Homo sapiens: one gene and its partners. The protein of the gene in region 2 interacts with the protein of the main gene of each other region in a biochemical or structural test. Each region holds a gene or a part of one and is shown on either strand. Other genes may lie near its edges. The genes, in order: SUCLG1, SUCLG2 and GPR143.

What was found.
Region 1: the proteins of SUCLG2 (region 2) and SUCLG1 are reported together in a solved structure, tested with the Homo sapiens proteins (one study listed by IntAct).
Region 3: the proteins of SUCLG2 (region 2) and GPR143 form a complex in vitro, tested with the Homo sapiens proteins (one study listed by BioGRID).

Annotation. Positions count from the first base shown.
Region 1 is NC_000002.12:84,449,264-84,456,371, forward strand, and holds part of SUCLG1 (succinate--CoA ligase [ADP/GDP-forming] subunit alpha, mitochondrial precursor), read right to left. Parts: intron 490-7,108; coding exon 386-489; intron 1-385. UniProt on the Homo sapiens protein: Succinyl-CoA synthetase functions in the citric acid cycle (TCA), coupling the hydrolysis of succinyl-CoA to the synthesis of either ATP or GTP and thus represents the only step of substrate-level phosphorylation in the TCA.
Region 2 is NC_000003.12:67,651,597-67,658,926, reverse strand, and holds the start of SUCLG2 (succinate--CoA ligase [GDP-forming] subunit beta, mitochondrial isoform 2 precursor), read left to right. Parts: upstream 1-4,314; 5' UTR 4,315-4,340; coding exon 4,341-4,424; intron 4,425-7,330. UniProt on the Homo sapiens protein: GTP-specific succinyl-CoA synthetase functions in the citric acid cycle (TCA), coupling the hydrolysis of succinyl-CoA to the synthesis of GTP and thus represents the only step of substrate-level phosphorylation in the TCA.
Region 3 is NC_000023.11:9,762,747-9,770,043, forward strand, and holds the start of GPR143 (G-protein coupled receptor 143), read right to left. Parts: upstream 3,102-7,297; 5' UTR 3,072-3,101; coding exon 2,822-3,071; intron 1-2,821. UniProt on the Homo sapiens protein: Receptor for tyrosine, L-DOPA and dopamine.

The DNA of each region.
Region 1 (7,108 bases), on a different chromosome or scaffold from region 2:
ACAATACGGTTTTTTGTCTGTTTGTACAAAACCTAAACACAAGAATCTAGTTGACCTAGTGCTTAGTCAAAGAAACGGTGATCTCTTTCAACACTGGAGGAAAATCATTAGTGTTGTATTTGCTGAAAGAAAGTGTATGGGCCTCCAAAACAATATACTCCTAGTAAGCATACAATATACTCCTTTGCAAGGTAAGTTTAAACACAATTTTTATGTTATAGGCTGACAATAGCAACTAACCTCCTCCTGAGATACAACCCCATTGCTGTACAGTATATTTTTCTGCAACAATCATGTGTTATTTTTGAGATATTAAAAATAAAAAAATAGTTAATTTGTTATATCTCTAGTCTACATTTGAAAATAAAAATCTAGATATACATACCTGTTTGCCAGTGAAACCCTGGCAAATAATCTTTGTATTTTTATCAACATAGAGATGTTGCCGAGAAGCTGTGTAGGAACAATGCCGAATTCCATTCTGCGGCACTAAGAGGTTAAAAAAAAAAAAAAAAAAAAAAAAAGACACATTATAATTTTTCTAAACTTTTGAACAATAATTCAACTTGATCACAAAAAAAAAATTCTTTAATGCACGCGCTATCCTGTGATCACGGCAAACCTAAATGCCACCTTTTAAATAAGACACAGTGACCACAGAAATAAGAAAAACAGACAAGACATTGTTCCATTCTCCAGGATCCTCTCTTTATCAAGAACCACGATCTTGTAGTTTTTTCCTGAACTGAGGGAAAAAAAAGCAATGTTTATCATTTTTATTTCCTAGAAAAAAACTGGGGCTCAAAGATAAATGGTTAAAATTAAATCCAGGGACTGAAAACAAAATGTCACCCCTATTAACAATGTTTACTAAACAGCCACGTTTCCCCACTTGACCCAAATTTTTAAAGCCTAATACCTTTAAATAGGTAAGCTAAGAGGCAAACTTTGTCAGGAATACAAGTAAAAATCACTCAGCAACTCATTCTCTAGTAAGAACAACATATTAAATGTTAAGTCATAGGATAAAACTTATCTAAAATATAATACAAAATCACTTAATCTCTTCTGATATGAACTCATGTATAAAAGACACAGGGAAAATAAAACAAATAGGAAAGTAGACAAGACAGGAAAAAGCTTGTTAGGAAAAAAAAAAAAAAAAAACCCTAGGTTATTGCAGCAACCTACCTAAAAGAGAAATTGAGAAATCTAAATAGTTACTACAACCAGCTCCCCACATTTCAAAACACAGTAGGAGGAACATAGATGACTTAAAATTTTGGGCTACCTTCTAAATGTCCATTAATACTAACAACCTGACTTCTCTGTGGCCCATCCCTGGCCCTTTCAAAGTAGCCAGGCCTTCTACCTATCATTGTGGTAGCCCATGAAGCTAGCCCAAGAAAAGAACATAAGGAGTAATCTCTATTGAACAACAAAAAAAGAACACCTGTCACATATTTGCCCAGAGTCCACTCCATGCTTTCTGCCTTAAATCACTGCCTCATACCCACCTAAGTCCTGACCTCACATTACATAACTGAAAGAGCAACAACATCTGCTTCTGGAGGAAGTATATGGAATCCCTTACACCTCTAGGGAGAAGACAGGCCCAGATTTAGCCCTTACCACCTGGATAATATTTGGTACACACAAAGAACTGCTACGTAACAGGCAGCTTTCTCATACTAGACTGTGCTCAACAAGGGGCCATGGGCTTTGCAGGTCAAGTTCTGGCACATCAGTCACAGCTAAGCATCTGACTCTAGGCCAGTGGACACAGCAGGGATTTATGGCCTGAGACCCTGTCCCTACTGAGCTGTGCAGCACAGCCCACCCTTGCCAGTGCTGCATTCGAGACCCATTCTTGCCCTTGGCTTCCACTTCTCCCAGCTGAACACCTACAACCATGGTATTTGTGTAGAAGCTACACCCTTTCCTACCCTGCTACAATTTCTGACTAGTGGAATTGGCTTTACCAGTCCCTCCCATTGCATCTTCAACAAATGCTCATATCATATCATATCATATCATACCATATGTTTTCAGACCAGAAGGTAGAAGATTTGATTATAAGATCAGATGTTATGATCAGGATATCTGGAGTCCCTACTTGTTAACATAAAATACTTTTTGTAGGTAAAGTTTGGTTCTGCACAAGTACTCTTATACTCACTAACTTAACAAAGATCAGACAATTCACTTCTCCTTCCACAGGAGCAGAAGTCACCCTGAGAAAAGGCAGGTCTGTCTGTGTCCCTAAAGCACAGCTCCAATAACAGACCAACGAAGATCTCTGCTTTCTCGTAGTAACTCCAGATCTCCTGGATCAATTCTATGGAGCTCAAGATTTTACAACATCAGATCTTTGGTGCTCATAAAAAGTGTATCAGAAGTGTGATAAACAGCAGCTTACCTCCCAATCCCCTAGCCTTTTAGTGTTACTCAGCCTGTGCAATGCCCCTGAGAGCCTGCAGCATCTAATTAACTAAATCTTGGGAAACCTCTAATGCACAGGTGTAGATGTGTGTGCGCTCATGCATGTGTGATCTCCCCATCTACACACCAGGCCTGGGCTCATACAGACCCACTTCTAGATAAGCTGGAACTAACAGACTATTATCGTCTTACAGGCAAATCCAAGAAATGTATTCAATGGCAAGGAAGTGAAATTCCTGATCACATTCCATCCTGACAATAAACCTGTATGATGCCAGACAAGGTTATCATCTGGTACTGAAATGTGAGTTCGTTCATTGATTCAATCAACATTTGAGGAGCACCCATACCAAGCCATAATGTCAGGTGTCAAGGATAAAGTGATGAATGACAGTGTCTCAGCCCTCAAATAATTCACAATCTATCTGAACTCATATAAAAGTGGGCCATAACTGCGTGGTGTGTGAAGTACTATAATAAAAAAAAAAAAAAGCCTTGGGCATTTGGGGTGGATAAACTCCCCACACCTATTCAAGGTAGAGAAGTCTATGAATGTGTAAGAGGTGGGGAGGGTGACAAAGCCACCAAATTACTACAGTAAGTGACTTCCTAAAGTGAAATTTAGAACACAAGGCATACATTGGTGGCCAAACCATCTTGCAAATATCTCTTACCTTTCAATTAAAGATTTAATGTCCTCAACTTTCTGAGAATTTCACTTACATTGATCCATATAAATTAACATTTAAATAAAACATTACACAGTCAAGAATTCCTATATCTTCACACGATATACATGATTTATGAGTATACTGGGGGACTTTAAAAGGGATCTGAGATTAAGAAGAATAGAAGCTACAAACGCTTTCATGTGGGTATACAATAAACACCATCACACACTACATTACTGAGTGCACACATATTCTTACTCTTTTCATCATGTTATTTTTAAGTGAAATTATCTAAGCTTAAATTTATTTCAAGACTATTTCAAGTACCATCTAAATACTTTTCCCACTGCTAACTGTAAACTCCATGAGTGTCAGGACCATGTCTTACTCATCTTGTCTCCTATGGTATATGGTCAGTGCCTTACACACAGTAGGTCTATGGGAAACATTTCACTGAATTCCAGGACAAGAAACAGGGTCTCCAAAAGAAACACTTCTACCAAGCTAAACACCATAAGGTTCGTCTCTTTTTCGGTGAGTTGGAAAAAGTCAATCTTGAACTCCCACGTATCAGCAAAGAGGGAAAAGAACCCTATATCTATTTTTGTACATATAAAGATCATAGGTTTCCCTAAAATTCATATAGAGACTGCATGGAAGTTCGGCCCTAAAATGCTTCTGGCGGTCCCCAAAGCTACATTAATCTAGTACAAACGCCATGCTGACATTTTTTTAAATAAATAAAACCCAAAAGCAATAATACAAATTGAATCTTTACCTACATGAAAAAAGCAAGCATTCAGACAGAGTGAAACACACCATAGGCAGAGTTAAAGGCAATGACAGACCAGGGGAGTGTTTTCCTAACATTTAACAGACAAGGAATTAACGTGAGCAACATGAAGAGCCAACAAAAAGTGGAGCCCAAAGCCTAAGAGAAAAACTGATAAAGGCCATGAACAAGAAACACAATGGATGACAAACTGCAAATCCATATATGATGAGATGCCTAGCTTTACTAATAAGAAGAAAATAAGTATTATTATTATTTTTTTTGAGACGTTGTTTTACTCTGCAGCCCAGGCTGGAGTGCAGTGGCACGATCCCGGCTCACTGCAACCTCCACCTCTCGGGTTCAAGCAATTCTCCTGCCTCAGCCTCCTGAGTATCTGGGACTATAGGCCCACATCACTACACCCAGCTAATTTTTTTGTACTTTTAGTAGAGACGGGGTTTCACCATGTTGGCCAGGCTGGTCTCAAACTCCTGACCTCAAGTGATCCGCCTGCCTTGGCCTCCCAAAGTGCTGGGATTACAGGCAGGAGCCACCATGCCCAGCCGAAAATAAGTATTTTAAATTAAATATTAGAGCAGGAAAGGTGAGGTTGGCCACCAGGAAAAATTTCTGATGGCGAATGCTGTAGTTGCCACATCCTAGGCCACCTCCTTCTTTCCAGATTCTTAGAAATTGTCCAGCTTAACCTTGGGACTGCGTCCCAGGAGCAGCTGAGAACATCATCGCAGGAATCAGACAGGCCTGGTCTTGAGTTTATGCTCTGCCTTCCAGCAGCCATGTAACCCAGAGCATACCTTTTGATCTCCCTTAGCCTTAGTCTTCCCATCTAGAAGTGGAATAACAGCTGCCCCTGGGAGGCTGTGATATTAATATGAAATTACTCCTTAAATTGGCACCAGGTAGCACAGTCTCTGGTACACTCCCAAAACTGGGTTTACAACCCTACATGAACACAAAGGCAAATCTATCCCTAAAAAGAGAGAAAAAATAGTTCATATTTTAAAATCAAATAAGTCTAGCCAAAAATGTTTTCTACATGTCCTTGTGTACATCTTATATGTTTATTTATAAACATACTAATCCATGTCTGCATATAATGTGCAGTATGCACAAATATACCTCTAAGTTTTTAACATATAATACATTTGTAAAGGCGCAGCCCTCACTGTAAAACACGGACAATAATAGTATCTCCTTCATAGGCTGATGTGAGAATTAAATGAGTTAGTAATATATAAAGCATTTAAAACAGATACAGCAAGTGTTATATCCCTAAGAGCTTTTTATTAGCGTTATTATTACCGATGCAGAATGAGCAGACCAAACTGCTTTGAGATGTTGACTGTGACAGGCTATCTGTCAGGTGCTAGGGATTCACAGGTGAACAAGACAGGCTCAGGCCCTACCCACATGAAGTTTCCTGCCCTGTAAAAGAGCTAAACATTGCACAAAAAAAAACAAAACTACCAACAGTACAAACTGTAATAAAGACAATGAAGGAAAGAGGCTGAGTAATCTGAGAGAGATGTGTTTTCAACAGGGGTGATAGATTTGTACCTGTCAGCCACATACTGGTCCTCTTTACCACAGATAGTAACACATCATTTATAAAATGGCTGGTGGGATGAATGATGCAATCTATGGTCAAAGAGCACCTGCCCAGGAGAGACTCAAACCATGGGCCTTGTATGACCAGTACCATGCTCCTAACCAATAACCCAAGGCTCTATTCATGAAATACTCAATACTCCTTCAACTCACCTCTCAAACTGTGTCCCTGGTAAACATTTATTCGTGCACGTACTCATGAATTTAACAAATGTACACTTATTAACCATATGTATTATGCATATGTAAGACACAGGCTACTGCAGTCTACACCTACAGGACCTTATAATACAGCAGAGTAGCTAGCAGCCACTTACCCCTAAACTCCAAACAACCCACTATTCAAATGTTAAATTATATATTCATTTAATATTGACTTACGAGTGAAGTTTAATAAGCTGTAAGTACCATATTTCATCAAATATAAAACACCATTGATTTTTAAGAAGTACTATTAATTACTGGTAAAAAAGAAAAAATGAGGCGGGCGGATCACCTGAGGTCAGGAGTTTGAGACCAGCCTGACCAACATGGAGAAACCCCGTCTCTACTAAAAATACAAAATTAGCCGGACATGGTGGCACATGCCTGTAATCCCAGCTAGTCGGGAGGCTGAGGCAGGAGAATGGCTTGAGCCCAGGAGGCAGAGGATGCGGTGAGCTGAGATTGTGCCATTGCACTCCAGCCTGAGCAATAAGAGCAAAACTCTGTCTCAAAAAAAACATATATATCAGTAATAAGACACAACCTAATGTAAGAAATGTTATAATGTAAAAAAATGTGGGTCTATCACGCCTGTAATCCCAGCACTTTGGGAGGCTGAGGTGGGCGGATCACAATGTCAGGAGATCGAGACCATCCTGGCTAACACAGTGAAACCCCATCTCTACTAAAAATACAAAAAAATTAGCCAGGTGTGGTGGCGGGTGCCTGTAGTCCCAGCTACTGGGGAGGCTGAGGCAGGAGAACGGCTTGAACCTGGGAGGCGGAGCTTGCAGTGAGCAGAGATCACGCCACTGCACTCCAGCCTGGGCGACAGAGCAAGACTCCGTCTCAAAACAAAAAAAAAAAAAAAAAATGTGGGTCTATGGTATGCCAGTCCCCTGATGAAATGAAATTGTTGCCCTGTACTTAAATTATTTTTAATATTCCCAATTACATTTCTATGGAGAAACAAATTTGATGTCAGAAAATCAAATCACTTTCTCATGGCTACACTGGTACATCTGAATCAAGGCTATTTTGTATTTCTGAAATAAAGATTTGGTTATTACATGCAATGGCAACAGATGCTAATATCCACAACATCACTGTTGAGGATCTCATTTTCCAAACTACACTTTAAATGCATCTCTGATTCGAAAAACAGGCCTACGCACTTGGCAAACACGGGGAAAAGGAAGGCAACACCTTTGAGCAGGATAGTCACCTTCTCAACACATCACTAAGACTGCCAAAAAAAAATCAGAGCTTCGAAAAAAGCTTAAGTTATCACATGGTACATGCTGGCGGAAAGGATACTGCAGAGTCAGAAGACCTGGGTGCTAGTATCACTTCTGATACTCACTGGAAACTTTTGGGATTTCCTCAT
Region 2 (7,330 bases):
TGACTACTTACTACTACCCTATGAACCAGGTATTTTCCTAGTCACAGGTGTTCAAGGGGGTGGAGGTCAGATTTGAATCCAATCCAGTTTGGCTGAAAACTTAATGCTTGTTCCAGGAAAGCACAGTGCAGAACTCTGGTAGAATCTAGATTCCCTGTTCTCAAAGAGATTCCTATTTGGGGGAGGTTGGAGGGTGGAAGCGGGGAGTATGAAATAGGGAGAAATCTTACGAGGAACTCTATAATGCAATTCATTCCACATATGTTTATTGATTACTTTTTCTAATCAAAGTCCAGTGCTAGACACTGGAGGTGCTACATAAATGGTTCTCTTTCTTCCTTCTGTCCCTTCTCCCCTACCACCTTCCTGCAGAGAAGGCAGAATGAGATAATACGAGTAAAGACACTGAGGAATTGCTGATGAAAGATTTGGACCCCAGAACCAAGGATGAGACAGTCTTCCAATTCAGACAGGAAAACTCTTAGGAGGCTGCTAACCCTGGAAAGACCCCAAGTTACGCACCAGTAGATAGTAAACAAATCAAAGAATACCAAATGTACTTGGATGACAATCAGAAAGCCTCTCCCGACTCCACTTTCAAAAATCCCCCCATAATAGAATAATCGCATCTTAAAAGAACACTCATCAATCAAAGACAGTCTTAAGAGTCTCTCCTTTATCTCTATAAAACTAACACTTCTTTCAAACGACTTCTAGTCTCATTTGGAAGGAAAGTGATAGTAGCCAACTCCCTTAGCATAGTAACGTCTGAATAAACAGCCTTTGATTAATTCTATAGGTGGTCTTCCTCCTTTTGGCAAAATGTTCACAAGCTCTCACCAAGTTTAAACGTTCACTCTCAAACATTAGCAAGTCTTTGCTCTATCCCGGCGGACCCAGTAGGGGTAATGATGAACAATATGGAAACTCAAATCCAGTTTTGTCAAGAGGAGGGTGCTAAGAGTGATTGGAGTCCAGCTTTGGGAAATTTGATCCCAAGCTGTGTCACCCTTGGCAAGTTACTTGACCTTAGAGTCATGTAAATGTCATGTGGAACTCTGTGGCCAAGTTTCTCTCTGGCAAAATGGGAATAATAGTAGGACCCCATTTGCAGGGCTCCTGTGAAGATTAAATGACTGAAAACAGAGGCAGCAGAGTGTATGTATCAGGAAAGAGCATCGGTTTGCCATTTAATAAAAAAGAATCCATGAGTCCACAGTGATACAAGTGAATAAAACAATTCACCGACGAATAGTGTTACAGTGAACTAAATATGGCCTAAGGAGGACTCGGTACTTCTATATTTGAGTCCTTGTGGACGAACTGCAACCTAGCTTAATAGGTAGACAAGATTGAAAACCTAACTTAGAAGTATGGACCTAAAACAACAGCTAAGTCTTGGCAATCCCAGTGGCCATATTTTAACCATTTATACATTGCTGAGTGTTCAAACTGTGTAAGGCAAATGCCAAGCTGTAACCAATCCAGCTGTTCTGTACCTCACTTCTGATTTCTGTAAGTCATTTCCCTTTTTTCCTCTATAAATCTTCTTCCACCACGTGGCTGCGCTGGAGTCTCTGTGAATCCACTGTGATTCTGGGAGCTGCCCGATTGGCGAACCGTTCATTGCTCAATTAAACTCCTTTACATTTAATTTAGCTGAAGTTTTTCTTTCATCAATGGAGATGATGGAAAGAGTGCAGTTTTTCTGAGTAGAATACAGACTAATAAATGTAGGATGGAGTTAGACCTTGCCACTTTGCCACCATCGTGACAATAATTGATTTAAACAATCATCATCATCCTTATCATCAAAAGATGCTACATCTAGTGGGTAAAACTATGTCTCGAAATGGGCTAGAAATTATATTAAAATAAAAATCCTCAGCTCCCCCACTTTCCAAAGAGAGAGATTAGGAAAGAAGCTAGTAGCAACAGCTGTCTACTTATGTCACATTGTACCTTTTTTCATGATCATATGCTCAAGAATGAGTAAGGTTAAAAAAAAAAATCTAAAATAGTGCTTAATTTGGGGGTGGGTGGAAGGGATGTGAATCTCATCTCTTATCAGACCTGCCACCTCTGGCAAGTTACTTAACCTCTGTGCACCTCAGTTTTCTCTTCTGCAAAATGGGGATTGTACACTTCTACTCATTTAAAACTTTGCTATGAAGACTAAACAAGTTTATATTTGTCTAATGCTTGGCACACATTCAGTAACTTTGCTGTTGTTTTTATTATATGCACATTGCTTAGACTCGCGTAAACTCTGTGAAAGGGAAATAATCTTGGGACTCCCAAATCACTAAGGTAAAGGGAAAAGTTAAGGTGGGAACTGCTTAGGGCAAACCTGCCTCCCATTCTATTCAAAGTCATCCCTCTGCTCACAGAGATAGACGCACAGCTGATTGCTTCCTTTGGAAAGGCCAATCAGAAACCCAAAAGAATGCAACCCTTTGTGTCTTATCTACCCATAACCTAGAAGCCCCTCCTTGCTTCCAGTTGTCTCGCTTTTCTGGACCAAACCAATGTACATTTTACATATATTGATGTCTCATATCTCCCTAAAATGTATAAAACCAAGCTGTGTCCTCCACCACACCTTGGGCACATGTCAGGACCTCCTGAGGCTGTGTCACAGGCACGTGTCCTTAACTGTGGCCAAATAAACTTCTTAAATTGATTGAGACCTGTGTCAGGTATTTGGGGTTCACAGCTCCAAATGAATGTTGCTTTTATCACTCTGATTACTGGGCTTAAAATCCTCCAATAGCTTTGTGTCCGGAATTGGTTCCTTCCCGTGGGTTCTTAATCGTCTCGCTGACTTCCAGAATGAAACTGCAGACCCTCGCGGTAAAGATGGCGTGACCAGAATTTGTTCCTGCAGATGTTCAAATGTATCTGGGGTTTCTTCCTTCCGGTGGGTTCGTGGTCTCGCTGACTTCAGGAGTGAAGCCGCAGACTTCACAGTGAGTGTTACAGCTCTTAAAGGTGGCCCGTCCGGAGTTGTTTGTTCCTGCCTGTGGGTTCGTGGTCTCGCTGACTTCACGAATGAAGCTGCAGACCTTTGCAGTGAGTGTTACAGCCCTCGAAGGTGGGGCATACGGAGTTGTTCATTCCTCCCAGTGGGTTCGCAGTCTCCCTGACCTCAGGAGTGAAACTGCAAACCTTTGTGGTGAGTGTTATAGCTCATAAGGATAGTGCGGACCCAAACAGTGAACAGCAGCAAGAGCTACTGCAAAAAGCAAAAGCACAAAGCAACCACAACCTGGAAGGAGACCCCAACTAGGGGCCACTACTGGCGCCGGTGTCCAGCTTTTATTCCCTTATTTGGCCCCACCCTCATCCTGCTGATTGGTCCATTTTACAGAGTGCCAATTGGTCCATTTTACAGAGTGCTGATTGGTCCCTTTTTAAAGAGTGCTGATTGGTGCATTTACAAACGTTTAGCTAGACACAGAGCGCTGATTGGTGCGTTTTTACAGAGTGCCGATTGGTGTGTTTACAAACCTTTAGCCAGACACAGAGCACTGATTGGTGCATTTACAATCCTTTAGCTAACAGAAAAGTTCTCCAAGTCCCCACCTGATTAGCTAGACACAGAGGGCTGGCTGGTGTATTTACAAACCTTTAGCTAGACACAGAGCGCTGATTGGTGCATTTACAATCATTTAGCTAGACAGAGAAGTTCTCCAAGTCCCCAACCGACCCACCCGGCTTCATCTCTCAGCTTTACATTGATTTTAGGTTAAGGATAGAACAAAACAAAACACCCACAACTCCTTAAGGGATGGAGAGCCTCCAATGGCCTCTCCTTGACTCACCTGAAGCCCTGGGCTGCAGGAACCTCACCTGTCTCTATTCGTTAAAGTCTCAGCTCAAACACCACTGTCCCAGATAGGCCTCGTGACCGCAGGACTAGACCACGGTTCTCTGCGGAGGGCGTCAGCTCCGTGAGCCACCCTTCCAGCACCCACTGCCATGGCGAATATTTGCTTGTTTGGCCATCCAGGGACTGTTTGAGCCCCAAGACCGCAGGGCTCGGGGTCTGTCTTTGCTCAGGACGATAACCTGGGGACTGGACAGTAGGCCCTCAGGCCTTGGGACCGCTCAAAGTGAACCGGGGCCGGGTGGGGGACCCAGGGCTCTGCAGCCTTAAGAACGCCTGTGCCCCCGGGACGCAGGGGTCAGGCCCGGCCCGGCCCAGACCGCCTCTGCCTCCTCCTCCTTTTCCTCCCCGCGCCCGCTTCTCCTCTGACCCCTCCTCCCGCTGCTCCTCCTCCGCCTCCTTCCCCTGCCCGCGCCCGCCCTACTGCCCCGTGCCGAGTTTCCTGTTTAAGATGGCGTCCCCCGTAGCAGCGCAGGCCGGGAAGCTTCTGCGAGCCCTAGCGCTGCGGCCCCGCTTCCTGGCGGCCGGGTCCCAGGTGAGCGTGGGGGCAGGAGCTGCGGGCGCCAGCAGCGGCGCCGGCCTGCCCGGGCTTCCCTCGCCCCCTGCTACTCTTGGTCTCCGCCTGACCCCCTGCGCGGCCCCTCGGGCGCCCCACTTCGGGAGGTGACGCGGCGCCGGGTCCAGGCGCAGCAGGGAACCCCGCTCCAGTGTGGGGCAGGGGCGGCGCGGCGGCAGCCCCGGGTGCCTCGGGGTATGAGCGACCCAACGCACTAGAGTCTCCGCTGTCTGCCCGCGCAGACTCATGGCGAAGGCGCTGAAGCAGGCGCTGGACGCAAGTTTAAGAAAAGTTTCTTGGACCGGGTTTTGGAGCCCTGAGGTTTTATTGTCAGCTCTACTAATTCTGCTTTTCAAACTTCTGGCACTAACCCTGAGCACGTTTAGACCACGTGATAAACATGCCTGGAAACCCGTTTCAGCCCAACTAGGAACTCACCCCCTAGGGTGAACTTCCTGCAGGCTACCTGCTTTTGCAGACTTTTAATGTGCCTGAGTTGGTCAAATCCGTGGGTCAAGGAGAAAAATGGGAAACGATCTTTCTCCTCTTTCCAATGAAAAATCAGGGCTGTCACTAAAACGCATTAGACCATTGACCCTGTCCATGTCCTCCTTGTTGATGGAGAATGAAATCAAAGAGGGTCAGTGGTGGGCTGGATAGCGATTGGAACTTGGCCTCTAGCAGATTTTTACCTTCTGCAGATGGCAAGCGTTAAAATAGTCAGAAGGACTTCAGGAAAGTTTTGAGTTGGTGATGACTCTTGTAGAAATCACTCAACCACTGAACTGGTTAGTCTCCGTAGACTATCTCTCTTCCCTTTTAAAGAAAGCACAGTCTGGGATTCAGCCACAGCAGAGTTAATGACCTTGCCTATTTCCCCATTTTTAATTGATGAGAGGCAAATTATCACTCATACAATTTTAACCAGGATGTGCATAGTATAGTTTTTTAGAAAATTTAAAAAATAGTGATTAATGATTTTTTGAGTTCCTCTAAACTTTGGTTATGACATCTGTGAGCTATTTTTACCCCTCTCCTTTCATTTCCTGCCTCCCCATTTCTCTGTTATTGTTAATGTAAATTTAAAAGGTGCTAATACTTACTACTGTAATATTCTTAATAGGTGCTTGACAGTATAGTGAGGTAGCAAAAGGAATGGCAGTTTTGTCTAATTAAAACTCACTAATAACTGTTGTAATAGAGTAAGGAGAATAGCTCTAGGAGATGAAGTCCTATTCATTATTTAAGTGTTAGAAAAAACAAGAACTAGGGTGCTTACCATGAGTGTAGACTTGAATTGATGAGAAACATGGGGCCCAGGGCAGTGAAAACTCATGAATTGTACAGAGAAACTGAAAATGCAGAGTGTTTAGCTGAAATATGTGAAGCCTACTTCCCTAACCAAGAAATAAGAGGCTGAACGCAACACAGGAGAAAATCTGGTTGGGGAGAGATACTCTTGGTTTGTCAAGAAAACTGGGTAAAAAGATCTGTTAGCACGCCCCATCTGGTTACTGTGATTTACATATTTGTGGATGATGTGTTTTTCTGTAAATTCTTAGAAGGTAAAAGTAGGTTTTTTTAAAGATAGAAAGGTACACAGTGTCCAAGAACTGGAAATGGACATTAGCAATCATTTAGTCCAGCCAGCTCATTTCATGGGTAGAGAAATTGAGGCCTAAAGAAGTTCAATGACATATTCAACGATACAGTGAGAGTTTGTGGCATTCCAGAGTAAAGGCTTACCTTTACGTTTCCGTTACACCATGCTGTTTCCTGGTGAGTATATACTTCCTCATGAAAATATATTATATCAACATGCAAATTAATCTGCATGCCAGTAGTAACTATATAACATCCAAGTCATTAGCACCACTGACACATTTTTATTTTTTTCTTTATGACCATCTTAGAATTGTCCATAAAAATGGTGAGTATTGCTATTTTCAAATTCTTGGGTGCTTCCTATGATCTGTTTCATGTACACTGATTTGATATTACGTTTCCATAGTCCCTTGCCCGTGGCAGACATTGCAGTTAAACATGGCCCACTTCTCTCATCATACTTAAGAATCCTCACCAAGTGTCTCAGAAATCTGTTGCCACTCTTGGCCCAGACCTATTTTATACCACCAGGCCTTGTGAAAAACTGTTGTCTGTACAGAAATAAAAGACCCAGTTTCTGCTTAGAGAAATAACTTTAACTGGTCTCTCAAAGATACCCATAGAATGACATTTTGTCTACCTCCTCCCTATGGTTAAATTTAACATTTGACACATATTCCTGATGCTTAGTGTCATTGAAGTTTTTTTTTTTTTTTCACCTTTGCTGTTAGCTTTACTGTTTTGACTTTTGATTGATAGTACGTCCTTAAAGGGTCCACTTTAGTCATTTCTTATTTTTCATATAGTTTTTATTCAGCCCATACCATTTGGCAGGACTGTTGTAGGCCCTGGGGTTTGGGGATGGTGAATGAGGCAGGCAGAGTCTTTGGCCACGTGATACTTTATTTTAATGGAGGTGGGAGAGAGTGAGCCAGTACACATATAACCAATAATGAAAATGATTTCAGCCAATGACAGATTCTGTGAAGAAAATCAGTCAGGGTCATGGGATGGAGAATGGATTGCTTCACAGCAGGGTAGTTTAGACTGGATGATCAGAGGAGACCTATTTGATATGGTGTGTTTTTGATTGGCATAATTTTTTAAACTGAAATATAAGACATACTGAAAAATGAACAATTACAAATGAACAACTTGATGAATTTTCATAAACTGAATGCAAACCCAGCTAACTAGGTACAGATGAAGAAAACGATCATTTAACAACAACCCAGAGGCCCCCTGGTGCTCCTGCCTGTCACTACCTCCACCCTACAAAG
Region 3 (7,297 bases), on a different chromosome or scaffold from region 2:
CAGCATTTATCACTCCTTTGAGCTTAATAAAAGCCCTATCCCATGGGCATTGAAATTTCTTATTTTTCAGTAAGGGGTCCCGATCACCCAGCCTTTTCCTGACTTCTGCTTATTTGCTCGCAACCTCATCCACTTCCCTTCTAAAGGCTAAAGGATATGCAAGTATTATTCACTAACCCTCAAAAGATGTTTGGGTACACCTTACTTTTTTAGAGACAGGGTCTTGGCTGTCACCCAGGCTGGATCGTAGCTCACTCTAGCCTGGAATTCCTGGGCTCAAATGGTCCTCCTGCCTCAGCCTGGTGAGTAGCTGGGACCACATGTGCATCCCACCATGACGGGCCTTTTTTTTGTTGTTTTTTTTTTCTTGGGGGTAGAGCCTGGGTCTCGTTACGTTGCCCAGGCTAGTCTTGAACTCCTGGGTTCAAGCAATCCGTCCACCACAGCCTCCTGAGTAGTTAGGATTACAGGCGTGAGCCACCGCACCTTTAGGAGGCCGAAGTAGGAGGATCGCTTGAGCCTAGAAGTTTGACCAGCCTGGGCAAGATGGTGAGACTCCAGCTCTGAAAAAATAATGCAAAAATTAGCCAGTGTGGTGATGCATGCCTGTAGTTCCAGCTGCTCAGGAGGCTGAGGTAGGAGGATCCCTTGAGCCTAGAAGTTCGAGGCTGCAGTGAGCTATGATCATGCCAGCACACTCCAACCTGGGCAACAGAGTGAGACCCTGTCTCAAAAATAAAGTGATAATGATATTGGGGTTGCAAATGTTTAGAATTATTATGTTTTAGGGCTCTCTCTGAGATCTGAATGGGCAGGATGATGGAGCCTGAGATTGGCTTCACATTAATCCAGTGAGGAGGGTGAAGAGGGGAGCAGATGAGCCGGGTACCCGTACCTCACGAATCCCACGTACAGGGATTCACTGTAAGTGTTTCTATTATAGACTGCATTTACGCATGGTGGAAATGTTCCAAAAAGCTAAACAGAATGGCCAAATCTAGCTGAGAGGTCTGTATAAAGTGTCACATAATAGTTTAAAGCAGATGTTGGCAAACTCATTCTTAATATTTTTGGCTTTGGGAGCCATACTTTCTCAGTCCAATATTCACCCTGCCCTTGTAGGGTAAAGGCAGCCATGAATAATTCACAAATGCACATGAACAACATAGCTGCGTTCCCATCAAACTTTATTTGTAGACATTAACATTTAAATTTCAGTAATAGTCACATGCCAGGAAATATTTTTTAATTTTGATTTTTAAAAACATTTTAGGGCTGGGTGAGGTGGCTCACGCCTGTAATCCTAACACTTTACGATGCCAAGGGTGGTGATCTTTTAATTAAGCCCAGGAGTTGGAGACCAGCCTGGGCAACATAGTGAGACCCCACATATATTTACCCTAGCATGGTGGCGTGTGGCTGTAGTCCCAGCTACTCGGGTAGCTGAGGTGGGAGGATCGCTTGAACCCAGGAGGTCGAGGCTGCAGTGAGCTGTGATTGTGACACTGCACTCAACCTGGGCAAGAGGGTGAGACCCTGTCTCAAAAAACAAAATCATTAATTTTTTAAAAAGTAGGATGTAAAACCATTCTTAGCTCGTGGACCCTAGAAAACGGGCAGGATTTGGTCTGAGGGCTGCAGTTTGCGCACCTGTGGTGTAAAAACCATACCCAAAAAGCCTGGATAGGGAAGGGATTTCAGCTTACAAAATACTCGAGAGAATATATAGTGCACAATAGAAAAGAATTTACACACGCGCACACACACACACACACACACACACACACACACACACACAGAGCGAGACAGAGAGAAGTTAATTGTTAGTCTCTCCCTGGTGCAGTTGGGCAAAAATGAGGAAATCTTTTCTGGTCTGGGTTTTGCTTAACTGCGCCATCTGAAGTTTCCATATAACAAACACAATAAACGGATTTTTTAAAACCCAACGTCCCTTGGATGGGAATTTTACCGACCATGTGTTTGCAAAACTACCTAGTCGGCCGGGCGCGGTGGCTTACGCCTGTAATCCCAGCACTTTGGGAGGCCGAGGCGGGTGGATTACCTGAGGTCAGGAGTTCGAGAGCAGCCTGGCCAACATGGTGAAACTCCGTCTCTACTAAAAATACAAAAATTAGTCGGGCATGGTGGCGCGCGCCTCCCCCAGCTACTCGGGAGGCTGAGGCAAGAGAATCCCTTGAACCCGGGAGGTGGAGGTTGCAGTGAGCCGAGATTGCGCCACTGCACTTCAGTCTGGGCGACAGAGCAAGACTCCGTCTCAAAAAAAAAAAAAAAAATTACCTAGTTGTCCCATCCGGTCCCTAGGGAACAGCCTCCGCTTTCTCTTTTCTCTGTGGTTCAAGTGTTAAGACGGCCAGCCCAACCCGCTAGCCGTGCGCCATCACCCGGGCACCGATCAAGTTCCAACCCGAGTGGATCGAGTTCCAACCTGCGGGCCATGCGCCCTCACCCGGGCATCGATCCGGTCTCAACCTGCGGGCCACGCACTCTCACCCGGGGATTGAGCAGGTCCCAACCCCAGGGCCTCACGCCCTCACCCCAGCACTGAGCAGGTCCCAACCCGCGGGCCTCAAGCCCTCAGCCGGGGACCGAGCAGGTCCCAACCAGCCAGCTACGCGCCCTCAGCCCTGCACCGGGCAGGTTCCAACCCGCGGGCCTCTCGTCCTCACTCCATCACGGAACAGGTCCAAATCCACAGGCCGTGCGCCCTTATCCGGGCACCAGTCGGGTCTCAACCTGCGGGCCACGCGCCCTCACCCAGGCGCTGATCAGATTCCAACCCGCGGGCCGCGCGCGCCCTTACCCAGGCAGCCGAGAAGGTCGCAGGCAGCGGCAGCGCGCAGGATGCGGACCGAGGCCGGCGGGGACGTCGCGGGGGACCCGGGGCCCGCGGGCCGGCGGCCGGGCAGCAGCTGCAGAAGGCCCAGCGCCAAGCGGAGCCCGCCGCTGCCCAGGCAGAGCGCGTGGAAGGCCCGCGGCTGGAAGCTCAGCACGAGCTGCGTGGCTGCGTCCCGCGTGGGGCAGCAGAAGGTCCCTAGGCGCGGGGAGGCCATGGGCTGTGTTCGCGGACGCGGCTCGGGTGTGCCAGGACCCCGCCGGCCTGCCTGGGTCATGTGCTGGGCGGGCTGGGGGCGGCATCATGTGCCCTGGGCCTCTCCCCCACCCCAACCCCCAGCGCCTGCAGTAGAGCCAGGCTCGGTGGGGGCCGAGAGCACTGGGCTAACGCCACGAGGCCTCACGAGGTGATGCTTGGGCGGGCGGAGGAGGAGGACAGAGAGAGGGAGGGCTGAGAGGAGAGGAAGAGGGAGGAGGAGGAGGGAAGTGGAAGGAGAAGCAGAAAGGTTGGGAAGGTTACCTTTCTCCCCATTCACCAAGCCTTCCTGGTGGTTTCTCTGCCACCTAGAGCGCCAAACCTGCCATCTTTACTGGTCTTCTAGAGAAACAGGCCTCGTGGACTAGATCTTTCCTATTTGGGACTCTGACATCCTGATTTTGATGCCTTTAAGGCGCCAGAACATGTTCATAAACTGTGACTGATCCCTGTAACTGCTTTTTTCCTAAGTAGAGATGGTTGTCCAATTAGTGCTTTTTTTTATGGCCTCTCTCATTCATGGATATAATCCCACAGAGGCAGGATTTTCGTTTACAATTAATGAATGAAACAAACAGATCAATGTTAAAGAAAGAGCAGTAGCTCACACCTGTAATCCCAGCACCTTGGGAGGCCGAGGCAGGCAGATCGCTTGAGCTCAAGAGTTGGAGACCAGCGTGGGCAACATGGCGAAACCCCACCTCTATTAAAAATACAAACATTAGCCCGGTGTGGTGGCCCAGGCCTGTGATCCAAGCTACTCGGCAGGCTGAGGTGGGAGGATCGCTTGAGCCCAGGAGGTGGAGTTTGCAGTGAGCCAAGATAGTGCCACTGCACTCCAGCCTGAGCGATAGAGCCAGACCTTGTATCAAAAAACGAAACAAAACAAAAATTAGCTGGATGTGGTGGGGCGTGCTTGTAGCCCTAGCTTCTGGGGAGGCTGAGGTGGGAGGATCACTTGAGCCCGGCAAGTGGAGGTTGCAGTGAGCAGAGATTACACCACTGCACTCCAGCCTGAGCAATGGAGTGAGACCCTATCTCTCTCTCTCACACACACACACACACACACACACACACACACACACACACACAGAATTAAGTTTAAAATTTAAAAACATTAAAAAAATAAAGGGAAAAGTACTCAGCATAAGTACACACAGACACATTTTGCACCTTAACTTTCAGTTCTATTTATTTGGATTTTTCTTAACTGCGTTAATTTTTCTATGTTTTCTCATACATTGAAAATCTTGCTTTATTCTATACATGTAAGTTTCCAAGTAATATTGTGTTAATGATTACAGTAAGCATACTAAGATTTTTTTTTTTAAGTTCTTCAAGGCTGAAAATAGAAGTGCTCCTTCTAGATTATGGCCTTTATTTTAAAAAAAGAAAAGAAAAAAAAATCCAGCTCCATCATATTTATCATCTTCAACAAACCTCATTGGCTCTTTGTGACCACACAAGAGACACCCTTCCTCCTCTCTCCTGGTAAAATGGGCCCCTCTCTGGGTTTTTTTCAAGCAACCAAGGTGCAGGTGTCCCCATTGTGTTCATGGACTTTCCTCACTTGTTCTCCCCACCAGCTTTGCGGTTTTAAGGAAGGCATGATCTGTGCCGTCTTCCTCTAGGGATAGCAGGACTGGCCTTCCCTTGGGACCCCACAGAAGGCAGGCGGGAGGCTCCACTGCCAGACAGGAAGCGGAGCCTTATTTAACAACAATGAGGTGCAAACTCCACCACTTCAAAAGAGTCCAGATCTGGCACGTCTATAAACGCAGCCTGTTCACTCCACAGCTGCCTTCCTAGAAGTCAGAACAGACTGACATCTTCAGAAAGCTTAACAGCTCTGCTGGATTACACACTCCATTGTAAAAACAGTCAGAAGCACCATAGAACTACTCCCCAAGCATTAATGTTTAAAAGCTTGAATTCTAATATCTAATTTGGACAGTGGCTCTCTTTCCTTCTGCCTTGGTAAGCAGAGTTGCTTCTGGAGGTTAGTGTAATGGAAAGTGCTTTAAAAGATAAAAATGAAGAGTGTCTGTACATTTGCCTGAAGGTTGAGGGCCAGTGGGCCAGGCAAAGGGGTCCCTGCATTTGAGTCACTGTTTCATGCCCCAGAAAACACACTCCGCCTCTCTGCTTCCTACGTGATAACCTGGGAGTACTCTCCAGGGGGCTCTGGCTGACTCTGGTGCCCACTACTCAAGCTCAGTAGTCAGAATCTCATCAGTGAGAAAATGGATATGAATGCAGATTCCTAGGGCCATGGCACAGATGACAATGGTAAAGATGAGCCTCAGAGTAAAGGTGCAGAAGCATGAGTGTAAGACTAAATTTAAAACCCTGTCATCAAAGTGAGAGGGAACTAGAAATTGGTATGAGAGGCTGGGCCCAGTGGCTCACACCTGTAATCTCAGCACTTAAGGAGGCTGAGGCAGGAGGATTACTTGAGCCCAAGAGTTTGAGACCATCCTGGGCAACATAGTGAGAGCCCATCTCTAGCGTCTTCCTCTAGGAGCAGCATCTTTTGAAGTGGTGGAGTTTGCAGCTCATTGTTGTTAAATAAGGCTCTGCTTCCTGTCTGGCAGTGGAGCCTCCTGCCTGCCTTCTGTGGGGTCCCAAGGGAAGGCCAGTCCTGCTGTCCCTAGAGGAAGACGACACATCTCAAATTAGCAGAGCGTGCTGCTGCGCACCTGTAGTTGCAGCTACTGGGGAGGATGAGGTGGGAGGATCACTTGAGCCCAGGAGTTTGAGGTTGCAGTGAGCTGTGATTGCACCACCAAACTCCAGCTTGGGTGAACTGAGATGACAAACTTTTTTTTTTTTTTTCCTTTGAGACAGAGTCTTGCTCCATTGCCCAGGCTGGAGTGCAGTGGCGTGATCTCAGCTCACTGCAATCTCTGCCTCCTGGGTTCAAGTGATTCTCATGCCTCAGCCTCCTGAGCAGCTGGGACCACAGGCACATGCCATCACACTCAGCTAATTTTTTGTCTTTTTAGTAGAGATAGGTTTCGTCATGTTGGCCAGGCTGGTCTTGAACTCCTGGCCTCAAGTGATCCACCCGCTTTGGCCTCTCAAAGTGCTGGGATTACAGGCATGAGCCATCATGCCTGGCCTGACAAAACTTTTCATGAAACAGTACAACTACAAATCTGAGAAAAGTGAAGCAAATACACACGCACACACTTGGGAGGCAGAAACATCTGGAAGTTTCGTAGATATGGGAGATACAGGGATGGCGGTGCTGAATATGAACTTTGAGGTATGTGTGCAGAAACAATCGGTCTTTGAGTACATGAAGGTACATCTGTTTTTGCATGAACCCTTCCTCCGTTTTTCCCTCCTTCCCAGTTTAGCACCTGAATTCGCTCTCCATTTTCACAGTTTGGGCTGCCTGGGGCATCTGTTCCCTGGAAATGCTCCATCATCTTGGCTTTCTCTCATTCCACAATCCACCATTTACCCACCATTCCCACTTGATCAGATGCACTTGATCAACTGCTGGAAGACGGTTCCTGAGTTTCTCTCCCAGGCAGTTTATTTTTCATGGTGAGTCCCCTGACATCGAGATGTCTCAACCAAAAGAATGGGGTTTATGGTGAGACTCAGATATCCCTTAGAATCCAGTAGAGGAGGTGGCTAGGGGCAGATGGATGGCAGAAACAGCCTAAGTAAGGAGACTGCCATTCACAATAATTTGAATTTAAATAATAAATAAGATTTGTTTATTTATTTATTGACATGGAGTCTCACTATATCATCCAGGCTGGAGTGCAGTGGTGCGATCTCAGCTCACTGCAACCTCTGCCTCCCGGGTTCAAGTGATTCTCCTGCCTCAGGCTCCCAAGTAGCTGGGATTACAGGCGCCTGCCACCACACCTGGCTATTTTTTGTATTTAGAGTACAGACGGCGTTTTGCCAAGTTGTCCAGGCTGGTCTCGAACTCCTGACCTCAGGTGATCCGCCCGCCTCAGCCTCCCAAAGTGCGGGGATTGCAGGCGTGAGTCACTGCGCCCAGCCTAATAAATAAGATTTAAATAATAAAATAATTTATGGAGTGTAGGCAGGCACTATGCTTTGAATATTACATTCATTATCTCATTTAATATTCAGAATGAGCCTTCCAAGTGGGTTTTACTGATACTTAAATTGATATAGACAAAACATGGCCAGGTGCAGTGG